Linked DNA regions of Homo sapiens. The protein of the gene in region 1 purifies or fractionates together with the protein of each later gene. This does not show direct contact. Each region holds a gene or a part of one and is shown on either strand. Other genes may lie near its edges.

What was found. The genes of interacting proteins can lie anywhere in the genome.
Region 2: the proteins of NPNT (region 1) and TAL1 purify together in Homo sapiens (affinity purification with mass spectrometry; one large-scale study listed by BioGRID and IntAct). This does not show direct contact.

Annotation. Positions count from the first base shown.
Region 1 is NC_000004.12:105,936,971-105,940,470, reverse strand, and holds part of NPNT (nephronectin isoform B precursor), read right to left. Parts: intron 3,463-3,500; coding exon 3,343-3,462; intron 2,171-3,342; coding exon 2,051-2,170; intron 397-2,050; coding exon 262-396; intron 1-261. UniProt on the Homo sapiens protein: Functional ligand of integrin alpha-8/beta-1 in kidney development. Regulates the expression of GDNF with integrin alpha-8/beta-1 which is essential for kidney development.
Region 2 is NC_000001.11:47,225,726-47,229,225, reverse strand, and holds part of TAL1 (T-cell acute lymphocytic leukemia protein 1), read left to right. Parts: 5' UTR 1-30; intron 31-3,336; 5' UTR 3,337-3,337; coding exon 3,338-3,500. UniProt on the Homo sapiens protein: Implicated in the genesis of hemopoietic malignancies. It may play an important role in hemopoietic differentiation. Serves as a positive regulator of erythroid differentiation.

The sequences.
Region 1 (3,500 bases):
AATATGATGACATAAAAAATATATACAGTTTCAAAAATGATTTTTTTTGGCAATGTGATGATCTACATAATATTGGCAGATAAACAGAAGAAATAAACTACATGTAGACTGAGAACTACCAGTGGTTAAACTGGATGTCTGTTGGTTTAACTTAACGCCAGTACTCTCCCCTGCCCCTGACATTCCAGCCATCACCACAATTACGAGACCTTTCAGTGCTCTAGGAAGAAACAACACAAAGCAATGGTTGGGTTTCATTACCATGACATTGATATTTGCCTCCAATATACATGAGATCGAAGCCTTTATGACACTTGCAGATGTAGCTCCCAAAAGTGTTGACACATTGCCTAAATCTAGGGCAGGAGGCTCTTCCTGTAGCACATTCATCAACATCTAGAAACATAAGTCAATAGCATTTTAGGAAGAGCAAGGGTATGTTAAGACAGAGTGGGTTTCAAAATAAATAACTGACTACAAATGGTTGCCTAGCATATAGTGGCTCATCATAAACGGTATCTAGCTGGTTGTCCCTACAGGCAACATAAATTCCACATATCCAAATTTCAACCCAGCCTTCTAAGCCAAGTTATTATTTTCTTGCACTCTATATATTAGCACATACTGCACCTGTATCTACCAAGTTGCTTAAACTAGAAACATGAGTCATTCTTGAATTAGAAACAACCCTCTTTCCTTTAACTCCCATATCATCAAGTCCAGTTAATTCTACCTCTAAAAAAAAGTATTTGAATCTGTCTACTTTTCTCTTAATCCACCACCACTACCCTATTTGAAGCCACCATCTCTTGGGTTAGACTGTTACAAAAGCCTCAAAACAGTTCCTTTTGCTGTTACTTACCCCCTCCAAAGCATATCCAACCCAACTGTCAAAATGATTCCATTAAAACATACAATCAAATCATTACTGTGCTCAAAATCTTTTAACTATTTCTACTTGCACTTTGAATTAAATCCACATTCCTCCCCTGTGTCCTTGAAGGCCCTGCAACAAATCACCCTCACCTACTTCACCCATTATATCTCCAGCCACCACCCCTCATACTCACACCCTGTACTTGAGCTACATGGACCTTCTTCCTTGAAAAACCTCACACAGGCCAACCTCTCTCTCACCGCAGTGCCCTGCAATGTCTTCAGCTGCTTGGCTGTTTCTTCACATGGCTAATGATACAGGTCTTACCTTAAGGCTAATAGACACATTCTGTTTTTCTCTCAGTACCTCATGTTAACACTTGGCATTGTCTGTAATTTTATGGGGTATTTGTTTCTTTTCTGTCTCCCCCATTAGCATGTCAGCTTTGTGGGGATCAAAATCTTGTGTGCTTAGGCCACTGCTATATATCCTAGCACTCAGCACAGTGTCTGGAGTATAGAAATTACTCAGTAAATAACTCTAATCACCAAACACTTCCATTCATTCAAGGCTTATTACATGCTAGGTATTGTGCTAAGCTCTTTGCATCCATGATCTCATTCAATCTTCCTACCAGTTCTATGTGGTATTATTTCCATTTTAAAGATAAGAAGACCCAAGCTCAAAGCAACAAAGTCTCTTGCCTAAGGTTACATATCTAGTACATGGAAGAGCCAGGTTTAAAACCAAAGTCCAGACTCTCAATCCTACACTGCCTTCCTAATTTACCAGAAAAAAATCTGAGGCCTGAAGAACAACACATACAATCTAGCTATTCAGCTTCATCACTCATTGCTCACCCTTGCCGCTTACATTCTAGGAATACTGAGCTCTTCTCGTTTCCCTAAACATTGTGCTCCTCTGAACTGCAGTGTCTTTGCACATAGGGTTCCCTCTGCCTGAGGCCTCCTCCTATTTCTCATTTTTTAAAAAACAACGCTCCCATTATCCATTCACAGAGATGTCCTCTTCTGAGACATCTGATATCTTCTGAACGATAGCTAATTATCTGATGTAAGTAATTGCCTTTTTTTTCCTTATTCCCATCACCTTTCACTTTCTCCCTTTATCCTACAGAGGCTGCTGACAGAGATGCTTGATTTTACAACTCACCTACACAGGTCCTCCCATCAGGAGCCAGCTGCAGGCCAGGGGATGGGCACTGGCACCGTATTTGTCCTTTAACAACATCACAGCCATACTGACAGTTTGCCATGGAGCAGGTCAGGGCACCTGGAAAGAGAGTGACTGGCTGACTCAGACAGGTAGAAAACAAAATCTGTAATGGAAATAGCTATGTTTTTTCACTTGTCCTGAAATCAGTGACACTGAACAACAATGAAGACAAAGAGGCCTTAACTATCAAACATCTAAAGAAAATAAAAGGGGGAAGGAAAGAAAGCATTAAAAGACAAATATAAAACTATCATATATAGATTATCTGGAAATTTTTCCAGTGGCCAAGGAAAGTGAAGAATTGAGGTATTTTTCCAGATTACTCAAGCTAAACGCTATTCTTAACTAATCATCCAAGTAACTGTCTCAAATGCCCATGAAATTTCTCTAGGGGAACAGCAGATTTCCCATTGAGTTGCACAATGTTAAACATGTATTCACCTAATTCCAAAAAGTTCCATGCTATACTTATGCAATGTTAAATAAAATTAGCTAACTTTATTTTATGCAACTCAGTTAAATGATAATTCAGTAAAAATAAAAATCAAGTCATTAATTGTCAGATATCATATGAATACCACAATTCAGGAGTCAGCCTATAGAGAATTTTAGGGCATAGTCCATTTTTTACATCCAAATGATGGTGAAAACATGCATTTCTTCCTTATAAACATGAATCCTACTTTTCTGGTATCATATTCATTTATTTTTTATTTGAAATTGTTTTTTAGAAGTCTTAGACTATTATTAGAGTCTAAAATTCTATAAAAGCCTAAAGGCTTTTATAATGAAATATAAAAATGAAGAAAATATTTATGAATGATTTAAAATTACAAAACAGACCTGATGGATTCTGTCTGAGCAGTCCCTAAATAGTCAGTAGTGTTCTTTTTTTTTTTTTTTTAGCCTGGAATCATTCTTCTATGCCCAGATAGAAGACATGGGTAAACATGTTTAAAAAAAAAATTAGAAAACATACTTAGTTTTGTAATTCTTATTCTAAACACCATTTCCTAATCAATTTAATATTGGCACCCGTGATAGAAGAGTATTATACATCGAAAATGGTGCCTCTTATTTTGATTTTCAATTCCTCAGGCAAAAGTATAAACACACGCACACATCTTGTTTAGGAGAACCCCGGAGGCCATTTTCACAAAAGCAAGCTCTCAGAGCACAACAGAAACAAGCCCAAAGCACTTATAAAACAGTTAAGATTCTTGACATACTTGAGCAGGAACCATCCGGCATGAGCATATATCCGTTGAGACAGTAGCACTTGTAGCTGCCGTAAGTGTTCATGCACCTGTGCTTACAGGGCCGGGGCTTCAGGCCACACTCATTTAGATCTGAAAACAATGTGGGTTGAAGCAGAAAAATTACAAAA
Region 2 (3,500 bases), on another chromosome or scaffold:
GAGGGGCCGGTCTCTCTAAATATGCCCCAGGTGAGTTTTCAGGGGAATGGTGCCGGTGGAAACGGTGTCTAGGAAGGCCTTGTGTTCCGGCCTGGGGTGAGGAAGGCTCAGGACAGAGGAGAGCCCATTCTCAGATTGGGGGTGGGGGGAGGGGAGGACCAGCCAGAGCTTGGAATCGGGATCTGACTGCTGTAGCTGCCTCTGTGGCATTCAGCGGCTTTTTCCCTTTTCCACCCAGGGTAAAACCAGCTAGTTGGACTTAGTCGTCCAGGCCTTTCCCATTGGTCCCGGTTCTGTGGACGTTTCCCAAGGCCGGTAACTTTGGGGCGGCTGTATCCGGGTGGTACAGACTGTGCCTGGAGCTCCCGCAGGAGGAAGGCGGCAGCCTTCCTGGCTAGTGCAGTCCCAGCTCGAGTGGGCCCTGATCCCAGGCCTGAGGCCTAGGGTGGGGAGGCAGGAACACCCCTCTTCTCCGGTAGAGGCGAGGATGGTGGTGCTGTTCCCTGGTGGGTTTGGTACTTGTGCAGGCTTGGGGCTTCTCCAGGGTGTTGTGCTGGTGTGGGCCCAGAAGAGAGACCAGAGGCTGGGTCTAAGGGCCTGAGGCTGTTTTCATCTAAGAAATTCTCTGTATGGGGGATTGGGTCTGCTTGAGACCTGTCCCCAGGAAGAATCTCCTGGGGTCTTCTGTCTTGTTCTGGCACAGGTGGAAATATTCTGGCTGTCTGGCAACTGCAGATGAGGATTTCCTGTTGGGGGCTATAAGCAGGGTCTCCGTAGTACAAAGAGAGAGGAGCTGTAGTCGTCAAATACTCTAGAACGATTCAGTCTAAAATCTCCCTCCTCCTTCATTCTCCCCAAATAAAAACAAACAAAATCTCTCGGGCGTTCCTTTCTGTAATCCAAATCAAGTGATGCAGCTTAGTCGCCAACAACCATCAGTGTTTGTGAGTGGCTTCTTTGGGGCATGGACCTCTGGCTGGTAATCCTAAACCGGCAGGATTTTCCTAAAATGTGGGGAGGAGCCGGGAGAGGTCCTCCACAGATCCTGGGATCCAATCATATATTTCTTACAAGGAACCTTGGCGATGGGATATTTATAGGTGTCTGGAGAGGACATTTGTGGCCAGGGTCAATTCATCTGGAATATGTACTCCCATTGCCTCTCAGGAATCCACCGCTAGAGCAGGAGCCTAAGAATTAATTGGAGGGTAAAAATGTGTCATAACAGAGCTTGAGCTCAGTCTGCAACTGCAGTGCACACTGTCACTCGGTTAGAAGCTGGGGCTTAAGCATGGATCACTGGGCTCACACCGGTGTGTCAGGACGGAGAGCAGTGAGGTAGGGAACCAATACCTTGAAGCTTGTATGTTTCCCAGGGGTTGGTATATTTCTGGCACATTTCGCTGCTGCTGGGAGCAAGAGGACCTGGCTGATATACTTCTGGTGCATTTCCAGTGGCCTTGGTGTCTTGGTGGTTGCATTCTATGGATAGAGACCTATTGTCTCCACCAAAATCATAAACTCACTTCCAATGAAGTGTCAGGGACCTACTGCCTTTACAGCTTGTATACACCAGGACTTAGGGAATTTTGTGGTTTCTGTGCCAGACCTGGGGGGCTGGCATTCCCAAAGAAGGTGTACAGCAGTCTGAATCTTGACTCTCTGTCATCCTGGGTGTCTAGTGGCAATTGAGCCAAGCTCCAGAGGAGGCTGCAGATGATCCATTCTCCCTTCTGGGGTGGGAGGGATGGTTCCTAGGATGACTCCTGTCCAGAGCATTGCAGTGGCAGTATGGGAGCTCAATGGCTGCTATGTATGATTTAGATGGACTCTGCATGGGGGTAAATTGTTTTTTTGTATTTGTTTTCTTCTTTTAAATACCCAATTATATAATTCAGAGAGCAGAAAGCTTATTTTAAACAACTTATGTGGTGTTGATCATATATGTACAACTCACAACTCACAAACTCTGGCCCTTGAGTCTCCTGATTTTTCTGTTTTGGTTCTTGCTGGTGCCCAGCTCTATCTGGATGAAGCCAGGTGATGGAAGAGCCCCAGCACACCTGTGGGAAGTAGAGTGGCTGTGGTCATCTCGGAGTATGCTTGTGGGGTCACAAGGTGGTTTCACTGCTCTGGGAATACAGGAGGGTTGAGCAAAGTGAGATTATTGCTCTGGTCTGGCTCTCTCACAGATAGGCTGTGAGTGACTTGACATTCGGCCAGGCAGTTTTCTCACTGGCCCATTCTCCTTGTTAATAATGTTTACTTGAACGTTTGCACAGCACTTTCAAATGCATAAAGGAGGTATTCCTCCCATTTCCCAAAGAACACCAAGGCAGGAGATGGCGGTGAGGGGGGCTGGAAGAGTTCAAGGGCCTCATGACATCCTGTCCTGCTCTTGGATGGGAGTCCAGACCCCACTGGCCTCAGGGAACCCTTCAAATGCCCAGCTCCATTCTACCTCAGCCAGGCCTCTCTTTGAGACTCGACCTCACTTCAGAGTCCAGCTGAGCAGAACGAGGTGGACTGTGCAGGGAGGTTGGGCCAGCACCATCTTCTTCCCTTGGCGACCTCTCATCTCTGTCTGAGTGGGAGTAAAGATCCGCTGGGCGGGCAGAGGACTCACAGTGGATTTGCTCAGTGTAGACAGACACTCCCTCACTCCCCAGCGGGGGCGAATGTGTGTGTGTGTGTGTGTGGAGGGAGCTGGTTCCTCGGGATTATTCTCTGCCAGCTCTGGCGGAGTGGATCCCAGTCCCCGTAGCCTCCACTTTCTAATTCCCTACTTCCATCCGCACCGGGTTTCTGGGTGTGTGCCTGTAGGTGGGCTGGGAATATTGCTGAGAGGCCAAGGGAGGTTCCTAAAGCAACGAACCCCTGCCTGACAGATTCCCCGCTAAAACCAAAGAGCACGATCCGGAATTTGTTCCCTCCTCTTCCCTTTAGGCCTGAGAAAGGGGACAGAGTAATCTCTTTCTTGCCTCCTTGTACATTTCCTTCCTCCTGATTTCCCCTTCTGTGTTTCTGTCGCTGGCTGTATTCCTTTTCTTCCGGTGTCTCTGTCGTCTTCCTCCATCTCTGTCCTTTTGGCCCTCAGTCTCTGTGTCTCCCAGGCACCCCTCCCTTCTCCCAATCCAGAGACCCTCTTTCCCTCCCACCCTAGCCCCAACCGGCCTCCCGCCCTAGCCCCACGTGGCGCTAACTTTGTCTGCCTCTTCTCACGTCTCGGTGCGTGAGTTCCTCTCTCTGCCCTTCTCCCCTTTACCCCAGCCCACGTCGGTGGGTCAGGGGCGGTCGTCAGAGCGGGCATCCGCTTGTCTGTCTGTCTGCCCACAGGATGACCGAGCGGCCGCCGAGCGAGGCGGCTCGCAGTGACCCCCAGCTAGAGGGACGGGACGCGGCCGAGGCCAGCATGGCCCCCCCGCACCTGGTCCTGCTGAACGGCGTCGCCAAGGAGACGAGCCGCGCGGCCGCAGCGGAGCCCCCAGTCATCGAACTGG